Linked DNA regions of Homo sapiens: region 1 is reported to be linked to region 2. The links are microRNA targets in miRTarBase. Many come from high-throughput screens and were not tested one by one. Region 2 holds a microRNA gene; the other region holds the end of a gene's coding sequence.

Region 1 (7,101 bases), not on the chromosome of region 2:
GCGTGAGCCACCACGCCTTGCCTATATATTCTGGATATAGATATTCAACTCCTGTTGGATGAACAGTTGGCAAATATTTTCTTCCATTCTGTAGGCTGTCTTTTCACTCTGTTGATTATTTCCTTTGCTGTGCAGAAGCTTTTTAGTTTGAAATAATCCTATTTATTTTTGCTTTTATTGCCTGTGCTTTTGAGGACTTAGTCATAAAATCTGTTCTCAGATCAATGTCCTGAAGTGTTTCTCCTATGTTTTCTTCCAGTAGCTTTATAGTTTTGGATCTTACATTTAGGTCTTTGATCCATTTTGAGTTGATTTTTGTATAGAGTGAGAGGTGGGGTCTAGTTTCTTTCTTCTACCTATGACTATCCAGTTTTCTCAGCATCATTTACTGAAGAGGGTGTCCTTTTCCCAATAAGTGTATGTGGTGTCTTTGTCAAAAATCAGTTGGCTTTGTCAAAAATCACATACATGGATTGATTTCTAGGTTCTCTATTCTGTCTATGTATATTCTTATGCTGGTGCCATGCTGTTTGGTTACTATAACTTTGTAGTATATTCTGAAGTCTGGTAGTGTGAGCCTCCAACTTTGTTCTTTTTGCTTAGAATTGCTTTGGCTGTTCAGGGTCTTTTGTGTCCCATACACATATTAAGATTTTTTTTTCTATTTCAATGACGAATGACATTGGTATTTTGATAGGGCCTGCATTGAATCTGTACATTGCTTTGGGTAATATGGACATTTTAGAAATGTTAATTCTTCCAGTCTATGATCATGAGATGTCTGTTTGTGTCTTCTCCAACTTCTTTTCTCTTTCTTTCTTTTTCCCAATACAAGGTCTGGTTCTATTATGCAGGCTGGAGTGCAGTGGTGCCATCTCAGCTCACTGCAATCTCCACCTCCTGGGCTTAAGCCATCCTCCCACCTCTGCCTCCCTTTTAGCTGGGAAAACAGGGGTGTGCCACCATACCTGGCTAATTTTTGTATTTTTGGCAGAGATGAGGTTTCACCATTTGCCCAGGCTGGTCTGAAACTTGTGAGCTCAAGTGATCCTCCCACCTTGGCCTCCCAAAGTGCTGGGATTACAGACAAGAGCCACTGCACCTGACCTCCAATTTCTTTAATCAGTGTTTTCTAGTTTTCGTTGTACAGACCCGTCACCTCCTTGGTTAAATTTATTCCTAGATTGTTTTTATTTTTTGTAGCTGTTGTAAATGGGATTGTCTTGATTTATTTTTCAGCTAGTTTGTTATTGGTTATTCAGCTAGTGTTATTAGAGAAACACTACTGATTTTTGCATGTTGATTTTGTATCCTGCAACTTTACTGAATTCATTTATCAGTTCTATGAGTTTTTTGATAAGAGTCTTTAGGTTTTTCTAAGATCATGTTGTCTGCAAAGAGTGACAATTTGACTTCCTTTTTTCTCTTGCCTGACTGCTCTGGCTAGGACTTCCATACTATGTTGAATAAGAGTAGTAAGAGTAGGCATCCCTGTCTTGTTCCATTTCTTGGAGGAAAACCTTTCAGTCTTTCCTCGTTCAGTATGATGTTAGCTGTGAGTCTGCCATACACGTCCTTAATTGTGTTGAGGTACTTTCTTTCTATACCTAACTTATTGAGAGTTTTTTTTTTTTATCATGAAAGGATATTGAATTTTATCAAATGATTTTTCTGCAGGTATTGAGATGATCATATAGTTTTTGTCTTTCATGCTATTGATGTCATGTATCATGTATATTGATTGGCATATGTTGAGCCATCCTTGTATTCTTGTGATACATCCCACTTGATCATGGTGTATTATCTTTATAATCTTTTTGATGTATTGTTGGATTTAGTTAACTAGTTTTTTGTTTTGTTTTGTTTTGTTTTTTGAGACAGTCTTACTCTGTCACCCAGGCTGGAGTGCAGTGGCACAGTCTTGGCTCACTGTAACTTCCACTTCCCGGGTTCAAGCGATTCTCCTGCTTCAGCCTCCCAAGTAGCTGGGACTACAGGCATGCACCACCATGCCCAGCTAATTTTTGTACTTTTAGTAGAGACAGGGTTTCACCACATTGGCCAGGCTGGTCTTTATCTCCTGACCTCAGGCAATCCACCTGCATTGGCCTCCCAAAGTGCTGGGATTACAGGCATGAGCCACCATGCCCAGCTTACTTACCTAGTATTTTGTTGAGGATTTTTGCAGCTATGTTCATAAGGGATATTGGCCTATAATTTTCTTCTTTGTATAGTGTCCTTGCTGTTTTTGGTGTCAGGGTTAGGCTGGCTTTGTAAAATGAGTTAGGAAGAGTTCCCTCTACTTCAATTTTTTGGAATAGTTTGAGAAGAATTGGTACTAATTATTTTATAAATGGTACGTAGAACTCCGTGGAGAAGCCATTTGGTTCTGGACTTCCCTTTGTTGGGAGACTTTTAAATTACTGATACAATCTAATTATTTGTTATTGTTCTGTTTGGGTTTTCTATTTCTTCATGATTTAGTCTTGGTAGGTGGTATATGTGTCTTGGAATTTATCTATTTTACCTAGGCTATCCAATTTGTTCGTGTATGTGCTTGTCCACAGTCGTCTCTTATGATCCTTTTTACAGTTGTAATGTCTTATCTTTCATTTCTGATTTTGAGTCTTCTTCTTTTCTTAGTCTAGTTAGAGGTTTATTGATTTTGTTTATCCTTCCAAAAAACCAACTTTTGGCCAGGCACAGTGGTTCATACCTGTAATCTCAACACTTTGGGAGGCTGAGGTGGGAGGATTGCTTGAGCCAGGAGTTTTTTGAGACCAGCCTGGGCAACATAGTGAGACTCTGCCTCTACCAAACAAACAAACAAAAAACAGTAGCTGGGCATGGTGGCGTGCCCCTGTAGTTCTAGCTACTCGGGAGGCTGAGGGAGGATCACTTGAGCCCAGAAGGGTGAGGCTGCAGTGAGCAGTGATTGTGCCACTGCACTCCAGCCTGGGTGACAAAGCAAGAGCCTGTCTCAGACAAACAAAACCCTCTTAATTTCATTGATTTTTTAAAATTATTTTTCTAGTGCTAGTCTCTATTTCATTTATTTCTGCTTTGATCTTTATTATTTTCTTCCTCTTACTAACTCTAGGCTTAGTCTGTTCTTTTTATAGTTCTTTAGGTTGTTATGCCAATAGGTTATTTGGAGTTTTTCTTCTTTCTTGATGTAGGACTTCATTGCTATACACTTTCCTCTTAAAACTGCTTTTGCCACATACCATAAATGATATTTTTATGGGATATTTCCATCTTCATTTGTCTCCAGATATTTAAAAATTTTTGTATTTCTTCTTTGACCCATGTTCTTTAGGAACATGTTGTTTAATTTCCACAGATTTGTGAATTCCTTAAAATTCCTATTACTGATTTCTAGTTTCATACTATTGTGGTCAGAAAAGATACTGTTATGATTTTCAATCTTAAATTTGTTAAGACTTGTTTTGTGGCTTAAATATGGTCTATCCAGGAGAATGTTCAATGTGCACTTGAGAAAAACGTGTATTCTCATGCTGTTGAATGGAATGTTCTGTGTATGTTTGTTAGGTCCATTTGGTCTAATGTGTAATTCAAATCCAGTGTTTCTCTATTGATTCTCTGTCTGGAAAATCATTGTTGAAGTCCCCTATTATTGTATTTCAGTTTATTTCTCTCTTCAGCTCTATTAATATTTGCTTTATAGACTTGGGTGCTCTGATGTTGGGTGCATATATATTTACAACTGTTTTATGTTCTAGATGAATCCACCCCTTTATTATTATATAACTTTGTCTCACTTGACACTTTTTGACTTAAAGTCTATTTTATTGAAGTACAGGTACTCCTGCTCTCTTTTGGTTTCCTTTGCACAGAATATCTTTTTCCATCTTTCATTTTCAAGCTACGTGTGTCCTTAAAGGTGAAGTGAGTCTCTTTTAGGCAGCATATAGTTAGATCTTATTTTTAATCCAATCAGCCACTCTGTCTTTTGATTGGCAAATCTGATCTATTCACATTCAAGGTAATTATTGATAGGTAAGGACCTACCACTGCAATTTTGTTCATTGTTTTGTAGATCCTTTGTTCCTTTCCTCCTCTCTTGCTTTCTTTCTGATTAGATGATTTTCTCTAGTGGTATACTTTTTATTCCTTGCTTTTTATCTACCTACTATAATTTCTTGCTTTGTGGTTACCATCAGGCTTACATAAATCATCTTACTTATTTTTTTGAAATGGAGTCTCGCTCTGTACCCCAGGCTGGAGTGCAGTGGCACCATCTCGGCTCACTGCAGCCTCCACCTCCCAGGTCCCAGTTCAAGCGATGCTCCTGCCACAGTCTCCCAAGTAGCTGGGATTACAGGCACGCACCACCATTCCCAGCTAATTTTTGTATTTTTAGTAGAGACAGGGTTTCACCATGTTGGCCAGGCTGGTCTTGAACTCCTGACCTCATGATCTGCCTGCCTCGGCCTCCCAAAGTGCTGAGATTACAAGCGTGAGCCACTGTGCCCGGCCAACATCTTAGTTATAACAGGCTATTTTAAACTTATTACAACTTTATTTTGATTGCATAAAGTTCTGCTTTTACTTCACCCTTCCCACATACATTTCATGTTTTTGATGTCACAATTTGCTTTTTTATATTGAATACTCCTTTGCCTTAGTTCTTTACACTATAAAAGAAGAAAAGGAATAATTGAGTTTTGCTTTGAGAACATCAAGTTCCTTTGGCCTTATTTTAGGCTCAATGAGAAACCTTTTGATACATAACTTGGGGCAGGTAGCATCACTGGCTCTGGAATCACAACTCTGAATTCCACCTGCTCTGCTACCTCTTTGGTAGGTTACCTTGGTGAAATTACTTATCACCTCTGAGCCTCAGCTTTCTCATCTGTCAGCTGGGGTTGAGACTGTCATATAGCTGCGGCAGGCATCCAAGCAATGATGACTTAATGGTTCAACCACTTCCCTCAATTTTATCTCCTGACACCTTCATCAGGAAGCAGTACCCTTGTAGCCCAGGTCTTGGGAGAAGTTATATAATAAAAGCTAAGCTAGCATTTCTGGGGTATTTGCCATGTGCCTCAATGGCACATAGCAAATGTTTACATGTATTATTTCCTCTTCATAACAGTTCTGTTTATAAAGAAACAGAGGCTTAGAGAGGTTAACTGATTTGTTGATTATACGTAGTACATGGCAGAAACAAGATCTATTTTCTATTTAAGAGTTAAAAATTTCTATTGGCCAGGTGTGGTGGCTCATGCCTGTAATCCCAGCACTTTAGGAGGCCAAGGCAGGCGGATCACCTGAGATCAGGAATTCGAGACCAGCCTGGCCAACATGGTGAAACCCCATCTCTACCAAAAATTAAAAAATTAGCCGGGCGTGGTGGTGGGTGCCGGTAATCCCAGCTACTCGGGAAGCTGAGGCAAGAGAATCACTTGAACCTGGGAGACGGAGCTTGCAGTGAGCCAAGACAGCACCACTGCACTCCAGCCTGAGCAGCAAGAGTGAAACTCTGTCTCAAAAAAAAAAAAATTTCTACCTAGTTTATGTATCTATTTCCTGTGGGTTTGGTTAGTATCAGTCCATGAGAGCCTGACGATTCCATTGCACTGAGAAAAGGATCATCTGAGTATGTAAGGTGGAAACCTAGGTGTCTGGGTGTGGCGACCTCCTGTGGCAGTTGGTTCAATGATATACGAAGTCCCATGGCCAAAAACTGAGTACTATTCTCTTTGGCAGCCCAGCGCCTGTCACGGGAGCATATGGGTGGCTGGGCTGCTCTGAATACAGCTGACAATGGAGCTGCTTATCTGAATTAAGGAGGGTTGTCACAGGCAGGATTCCTGACTTTGAGCTAATAAAATTGTGACAACAGGGCTCGAAATGTCCTCCATGACTTGACAGACTGAGAGCCAGCCAGCCAGGAGACCTGCAGAACTTAAACACGGAGCATTTATTGTTAGAAAGGGCAAGTCTTACACTCAAATAGGTTTTAACATGAACACATTAAAGGGAGATGGCCCTGGCCCCCACAGTGTCTGCTCTCTCCAAGGCATGCTTCAGTTATACTGCAGCCTGGCCAACCACTGTTCCCTGTAGAAGTTGAAGTTCCTCTGTATTATCCAGCAGCTGGAGGAGACGGAGTATGGCAGACTCTGGAATGCCATTTGTGTGAGTTCCACCTACTTTCTAGGCTTCAGGGTAAATGGAAAAAGTCGCAATAGGCGAAATGTATTTCCTAAAAAGCTGGACAGAGGTATGTGACATTCCTTTGCTTAACAAGCAAAACAAAATCAATGAGTCTGGTGAACTGACGCCATGACAGCAATGTGGAGAAGACTGGGAGTCTACACTGGGAATGGTGCTGTGGACGCTCTGGGCACAGAAGCCCAATTTGGAACCTCTTCTCAGAAGCGTGGGAGGTGGTGGAGGCCAAGCCCACCAGAGGCGGGGCCTCTCCCCAGCTGCCTCGGGATCATCTCTGGTTCTCCTGGGCCAGGCTCCATGGAGTCATCAATCCTCAGTCACAGGTGGAGGAATGAGCTGCAGCTGGAAGTTCTCATTCTGGAAGATGCTGTTGAAAGCAGGAGCACTCTGCGAGCCACTGAATGGCCTATAGCTCTCGCTGCTGCGATTCTGGGAGAGTTCCGTGAGGAGAGCCAGCTGCAAAGGAAGGACACACATCAGCTAAGGTTTGTGGGGAGCAGAGGGAAGAGAGGCTCCTGAATCCACTGCTTCAGATACATGAGAGACAGTGCTGTGTTGCAGGAGTAGTAACATGCAGGGTTTGAATCTTAGGTCCATATATCACAAACGAGCAGTGTGACTTTGGGCAAGTTCACTTCATTTTTTAGGGTCTAAATTTCCTCATTCAATAATGAGACTGGACTGGTTTGCTCCCAAGGGCACTCAAACTGTGCTCTCTCTGGCACTGGAGAGCTCTCCCACCCTGGGCTGGCCCTGTGCTGAGGGCTCCTCCAGCTGCTGTGGATGGCCCTGCTGCCACCCTTCTCTCCCTGTGGACGCGCCCTGGGCTGAGGAGCTCTGTTCTCAGCTCTGCTTGTTCCAACCTCTCCATCTTGGTGCACTCTCCTCGGGGTGAATGAC
Region 2 (7,118 bases):
ACAGCACCAGCCCTGCCTCCAGGTCCCCTGCACCTGCCCAGCCTGGGAACCATCCCTGGCCTGTGCCCTCCGCCAATTACTCAGTTTCAGCGTGTGCCAGATGTTTCCTGCTGGGCCCCATCTGGCACATGCTGAGTGAGTTCTGAGTGACTGCAAGGACAAGAGGACAGTGGCTTTCCTAGAAAGCAGGCAATCTTGGCAGACCTGGATACTAGGCTCCAGCTACCCTGATCTCCTCTCGGACCAGGCACAGGACTGCCCATGGACCCAGCCCAGCTCTCGGGGATGTAGGAGAGGCCACATTCCCCCGGCTGCTCCACCGGCTGACAGTCCCCTGTGTCTCTGACACTTGGAGTTGGGGAGCTGGGTCTTGTGCGGAGGTGTGACTTGTATGCCTCTGAGAGAGGAGGCCCTGGCTCTTGGAAAGAGCTTACACTTCTGGAATCTGATTGTTGATAGGAGAAAAGGCTGGGACCAGCCCTGCCCAACTCTGCCCAGAGATTAGATGCTCTGACTGGGAAGCTGGCACCTGCCATGGCCTCCCTTTCCCCATCTGTGCAATAGGGCCACGCCTCCTGGGCCTGCTGGAGAGGGAAGACTGTGTCCAAGGGCAAGGGACCCTCTGTGTGGGCTTTATGGTAAGGAAAGGGCCAGCTGTGGCCCGAGCCCAGGGCCCCTGCCTCACATGAGGCCCAACCTCTGGGGCTCCCAGCTGCTGGTTCAGAAGCCATGCAGATCCTGAAGGAAGGTTCCAGGCTAGACAGGCCCTCTGAGTCACTCAGTCCACAATCCCCAGGATGGGACAGTTTTCCAGAGCATCCCTGACCAGTGCAATCCTGTAGAAGCTTGGTTACCCCCTGCAACAGGGAGCCCACTTCCAGTCCCTCCTGGGATTGAGTAGCTCTGATCATGAAAAATTCTTCCCAGTGTGAAGTCATAACTTGCCTCCCATCAAGTTCTAGACCATTGATTCTCTGCCCACAGAGACACCTGCGGGGCTCTTACAAATTCTGGCCAGGCGCAGTGGCTCACACCTGTAATCCCAGCACTTTGAGAGGTCGAGGCAGGCGGATCACAAGGTCAGGAAATCAAGACCATCCTGGCTAACATGGTGAAACCCCGTCTCTACTAAAAATACAAAAAATTAGCCAGGCGTGGTGGCAGGCGCCTGTAGTCCCAGCTACTCAGGAGGGTGAGGCAGAATGGTGTGAACCCGGGAGGCGGAGCTTGCAGTGAGCAGAGATCACACCACTGCACTCCAGCCTGGGCAACAGAGCAAGACTCCGTCTCAAAAAAAAAAAAAAAATTCTGATGGGGCAGGGCATGATGGTGCATGCCTGTAATCCTAGCACTTTGGGAGGCTGAGGTGGGTGGATCACTTGAGCGTAGGAATTCAAGACCAGCCTAGACAATGTAGCAAAACCCCATCTCCACAAAATACAAAAAAATTAGCCTGGGGTTGTGGTGCACACCTGTAGTCACAGCTGCTCGGGAGGCTGAAGTGGGAGGACGCCTGAGCCCAGGCAGGTTGAGGCTGCTGTGAGCCATGATTATGCCATTGCACTTCACGCTAGGTGACAGAGCAAGACTCTGTCTCAAAAACAAAACAAAACAGAACTCTGATGGGTGTGGACATGGGCACTGGTGTTTTATTTAAGCTTTCCATGTGATTTGCATGTACAGCCAGGATAGGGAGCCACCACCTTAAATCTTACACTTCAGTCTCTATTTAATGGCCACCACTTCCAGGAAGCCTGCCCTGATCACCTGAGGCTGGGCTAGGTGCTCCCCAGGCTTCCTGGCCCCCACACTTCTCTTCTTCAAAGCACATACCATGTAGGCCCAAGGCCCCACCCAGACTCAGGGCCTGGCACTTACCCTCTCTCAGGACCATTTGGTCCATTAATGGAAATGTTGCTTGCCTTACCCCCTCCCTGCCTGGCACGTGTCGAGCTCCTCAGCATCCTGGTCCTCGCCTCAGCCCTCATGTCCTTGCATGTCAGACCTTGTGCCCTTGTCCCCCTCACACCTCACACGCACACTGAGCACGTTCACCCCATGGACACACGGGGCTTTCTTTCTACTCCAGGCTTTGTCTATGCTGTTCCCCCTGCTAAGAACACTGTTCCCTTTCCTCCTCAGATATTTTTTCAAGTATCTCAGACTTTAAGGTGGGCCAGGAGTGGTGGCCCACGGCTGTAATCCCAGCACTTGGGAGGCCAAGAGGGGATGATCACTTGAGGTCAGGAGTTCGAGACCAGCCTGGCCTACATGGCGAAACCCCATTGCTACAAAAAAAAAAAAAAAAAAAAAAAAAAAAAATTAGCCAGGCGTGGTGGTGCATGCCTGTAGTCCCAGCTACTCAGGAGGCTGAGGCATGAGAATCACTTGAGCCTGGCAGGTCGAGGCTGCAGTGAGCAGTGATGGCACCACTGCACTCCAGCCTTCATGACAGAATGAGACTCCATCTCACAAAAACAAACAAACAAAACGTAAAAGTTTAATGTGCACATGATTCACCTCAGATCCTGTGAAAAGCAGCTTCTGGGTGAGGCTGGGCATTCCACAGTCCTCCTGAGCTACCAGGTGAGTGGAGGCTGCTAGCCTTGCCAGTGAGGATGGAGCCATCTCCTCCTCCTGAGCCCCCATCTGAGCTCCAGAGCCCCAGTATATCGCCCAGTGTGCACTGTCAGTCTCCCCACTGGCCTGTCACTCTGGGGGCACAGGATCCTGGCTGCCGTGGCCACCACTCACCCCCACCTTTACCATGGGGCGCTTGTGTTTGCTGGCTGGATGCTAAAATTCAGCCACGCCTCCCCATCCCAATTCCAGCAGGGCACTGAACACAGGACACCCCTGGGGTGTAATAGGCAGGGGAGGGGCCTGGCTTTGCCCATTGTAGGCCAGCGGGCTCACCTTGGCGATCTGGTCGAACTTGCCAAAGAGCTCATTCAGCACCACCACCAGCTCCTTGGGAGAACAGTCGCTGGCCAGCTGCGTGAAGCCCACGATGTCCGCATAGAGGATGCTGGGGATGGGGCAGGGTGGGAGGGAGTGTCAGAGCCAGGCTCCTAGACAGCAGCAGCAGGAGCACGCAGGACTGTCTGGAGCCCCAGGAGCCTGCCAGGCCTGAGCCCATTCACCCCCGTCCTTCCTCAGCCTCCATAGGGATGGGAGAGTCGCGCCCAGCCATAGAGACAGATTAAAGTTCCAGGGGCTTCACGTTAAAGCAGAAGGGAGCAAAATTCAGAGCCTACAGGAGCCCTCGGCCCCACCCCAGGCCCTATCACTGCAGACAGCCGAAGGGCACTCCTGCAGGCAGCCCGGAGCCTTCCCCTTTCCCATCCAATGTTCACCACAGCACAGACTTCAGAACTCCCTGGTGAGAGGCAGCTCCATGCTCCCTCAAGCCAACCTCCACACCCAGCACTTTACAGGCATCGAGTCCTCACACAGCCCTTGCCGAACTCCCGTTCTACAGATGCACAAACTGAGGCTCCAGGACATTGAGACTTGCTGGGAAGCCAAGAGCTGGCATCTGCACCAGTTCTCCCTGCTCCAAAGTCCTTAAGCTCATGGACCATCCACAGCCCAGAGAAAAGGCAGCGGGCCAGCCTTGGATGTAATGCTGGCGCTGCAGGCAGAGGACCCAGGGGGTCTCCTGGGACCCACATCTACACTCAACGGCACCCAGCACCCACATCGACACTTGACAAACTCAGGTCAGTGCATTCAAGTAAAATTTTGTGGTTCCCTGCAAATCAGCCAAAGACAGGTGTCAGAACCGGGGCACTCTTGGGCACCAAGGCCGGGGGGCTTTACCTCATTCTGGGGGTCCTGTGCTCCCTTGAGAACCATCTGAAAGGACCCCTTCCTTCACAAAAGCTATGTTTGCTCACACAGTTTTACAGTTTTGGGGGTGTGCTAGATCTTTCAATACCAATCTAAATTCTCTAATTTAAGAGCCCTGATCTGATCCTGCCCACAAGTGGGGGTTCTGAGACCCAGGGAGGGCCCCAGATTGACCTGGAACCATGGGGCCCTCTCCCAATCCCTATATGGGCAGGGGTCTGAGCCTCCAGATAGGGCGGGGAGGCCGCCTGGGGGCCGGTGGAACGGTGGGCCCAGTCCCCGGGATATGCTAATCACACGTCTCACCGCCCACCTGACATTCTGGTGCCTCTTGACGTAGAGGCTGTGGAAGTTGTTGTCAGGCATGCAGCGACGGTCACCATGCTCCTTGAGCCGTTCGATGATGGCCAGCTTCATGCCCATGGAGATGTGGGCCGGAAGCACTGACAGCAGCAGGTTCTCCTGGGTGTGGGTGGGCAGACCAGCAGAGGGACCAGCAAAGCGACCGGCGGAGGGACCAGCGGGGGACAGGCAGGGTAGCATCAGGTCCCAGACCTGGCCTCCTTGGCCCCCATCCTCCCTGCCTGCCTGCCCTGCCCACAATGTCCCCATCTCTGCTCTTGTCCTCCACCAACCCAACTGAGCATCTACCTCCCATGTACCCAGCAGCCCCCGGGACTCAGGGTGACTGAGAAAGGGCTCTTTCAGCTGGGGAGGCTAAGCTGATGGGTGAGCAGCCTGGAGCCACTACGGCCTTCTCTGCCGCCACCTGGGGACTGCGTGCCCAGGACTGAAACCACACAGAGGAAGGCAGAGTCAAGGGTCAGCAGGCTATGGTTACCCTGCTGGAGCCCAGGACTCACCGAGGTGAGACCTGCATGGGTGTCTGGCCATGCACCTCATGCACATGGCAGCATGAGTGTCTCATGTCCAACAGAAAGAGGAAGAGGACAGGGGTGTACAGGGTGAGGAGTGGGGGCCGGGTCCCACCTGCTGGCGCTTCTCGATGCGCAGCTTCCGGCGGATCTGGATGCACTTCACAGTGTAGGTGAAGAGGTCCCGGGATGCATCCTGCATTTGGTGCTTGTGGAAGGCGCCTGTCAGGTTCCCACACAGGAAGATGACTGCGTTGGCCAGCAGCTGCGGGTAGACAGGGGTTTGGCTCATTATGTGGCCTGGCCCATGCCCTCCCGAGGCACCAGACCCCTAGGCGGACTAGTGATGGCACCTCTTCCCATTCCCTGACCTTCAACCCACTGAGAATGGCACTCTTCCTGGGGCAGACAGGGAAACTGAGGCCCAGACAGGAGCTAGTCTCCTAGTGAGTCACTAGGACTGCAAGACCAGGACACCCAGGGAGGCAGAAGAGACCACCTCACAGAGCCCAGGGCCCGAGGGGCATGCGTGCTAAGGGCAGTCCCAGAGGGCACAGCGCCCAGCTGGCTGTGTGGAGGGCCAGCCTCTGCCTGGAGAGGACACCAGGCCTGGTCAGAGGGAAAACACTTCTCTAAACACCCAATAATTATGAACAGAAGATTCACTCATTCAACACAAAGACACAAGGCAGTGCCCTGGGGTACTCCCCCAAGCCCCGCCAGGACAGGGCCTTCGAGGGGAAACTTCGGCAATGGGACTCACCCCACGACAGTGTCCCTGAACCGGGAGGCAAGGCCTGAGGTCACGACCCTGAGGGCTGAGCCACAGGGGAGCCCTAGGCCAGCAAAGCAAAGGCCAGAGGGCAGGGCCACGCCTGGAGCCCAGCTTCCGAGCAGACGTGGAGAGGGCCCGGCCTTGGAGCGGGCTGTCTGCAAACACGGCTCCGGGGCCTTCGGGTCTGATTCACCCAGAGGGGGCCCCCCCATCTGCCCTTAGACCCAGACCACAAAACCTCCCCCAGAGGCCTTAGCCCATCCCTCACCTGCAGCCCCACCCGGACACTGGGTGTCGTGAAGCCTCCCATCAAAGAACCGAGCACCAGGAGGTGGGAGGCAGTGGAGACGGCCCCAACGGCGACAGCGCCCCGCATGCTGAAGGGCAGTAGTGTGTACACCACGAAGACAATGAACAGGAAGAAGGGCACCTGTGGATGCAGCCTGGTGAGCCCGGTGCCCCAAGATGCTGCCCCAGGCCGTACAGCCCCCGGAACCCTGCACCACAGCAGCCCACCCAGTGCGTATCCTTAGGTTGGCTCCCTCGCCACCCCCTGCGTGGGCAGACATACAAGGGAACAAGAAAAGCCATAATGTGTTTCTAGGGTGGGCCCGGCCACAAGGTTCATGGTTTCCTGTGCTGATCCACTGCCTGTGGCCACCCTAGGTGGGAGGCTCCATGCCCCGCGTGATCCAGGGAGCCCCCACCTGGTGCCCCTGCCACGTGGTTCTCGCTCAGCAGAAATGATTACCGGGAGGCTGAGGCACCCTCTCACCAGCTGCCTCCAGCAATGCGGCCCCACCCGCCCTCCCTCCACCCCCAGAGCTGCCCCACCATCCCCACCGGCTGGTCCTGCGTCCACCCCTCTGGGAGTGCTGCCCTCTCCCTCCCCTTCAGTCCACATGGTTTCCTTGGGCCTCACCCCACCCTGCCCCAGCCACAGGAGCTGTCATAGGACCCAGGCCCACTGGTCAGAGTGTGCTACCGCTTGGTGACAGCCTCTCTGGGACTGGGCCCATGACCACAGCCAGGCCAGTGTGGCTCAAGCCTGCAGGTCGAGCTGGTTGAGAAAGGGCCCTCTCTCTCAACTGGGGTGGGCAGCCTGGAGCCGCTGTGAACTTCTCTGCCCCCACCTGGGGACAGCGTGCCCGGGGCCGAAGCTGTCCAGAGGCCCCAGTTCCAGTTACCCACTGGAGCCCAGCACTGACCCCTTGGCCTTTCCTGACACAGGAACCAGTTTGTGCCTTTTTGCCTCTTTGAGCTGAAGTTCTGTCATCTCCAACCAAACTGGAGCCACCCAAAAGTGCTGCAGCCCAGCGTCCGAGTGGATGCTCTCCCCACCTCAGCCCTGTCAATGCAGAGAACTCACAGGGACAAAACCAGCCTGGGGCCATCCTAGACACACAGCCAAGCGTGGGGCACGAAGGGCCTGTGGCATGCCCACCAACCACGGGGATGGGAGCTGCTGAAGGCGCAGCTGGCAGGGAGTCCAGAGTTCCTGTTACCTGCTCCCACGCACAGGCCGCCTTTGTCCATGCGTCGAACACCAGCACATAGCCCAGCGCCACCAAGCAGGCCCAGGTGAGCAGCGCCAAGGCCCTGAGCCAGCGCCGCAG

The links. The annotated mature microRNA hsa-miR-6771-3p reads CAAACCCCUGUCUACCCGCAG and lies in region 2 at 4,993-5,013, opposite strand. An mRNA with a match to its seed (bases 2 to 7 or 8) in the 3' UTR can be bound and repressed. Matches are read on the target gene's strand: a 7mer-m8 pairs with bases 2 to 8, a 7mer-A1 pairs with bases 2 to 7 and ends in A, and an 8mer does both.
Region 1: the mRNA of VPS8 is a reported target of hsa-miR-6771-3p. The part of its 3' UTR that is shown has no 7-base or 8-base seed match.

Annotation. Positions count from the first base shown.
Region 1 is chr3:185,051,432-185,058,532 of GRCh38, reverse strand. It overlaps VPS8 (VPS8 subunit of CORVET complex), which reads right to left. Exons shown (of 48, transcript NM_001009921.3): 48 at 5,929-6,657. The coding sequence ends at 6,508. Among named protein-coding and RNA genes, the nearest start is that of C3orf70, 98 kb to the left of the region's middle.
Region 2 is chr16:50,290,550-50,297,667 of GRCh38, reverse strand. It overlaps MIR6771 (microRNA 6771), which reads right to left and starts at 5,052; the gene lies at 4,993-5,052. ADCY7 (adenylate cyclase 7) reads right to left here. Exons shown (of 26, transcript NM_001114.5): 3 at 7,008-7,118; 4 at 5,771-5,932; 5 at 4,843-4,992; 6 at 4,166-4,314; 7 at 2,917-3,028.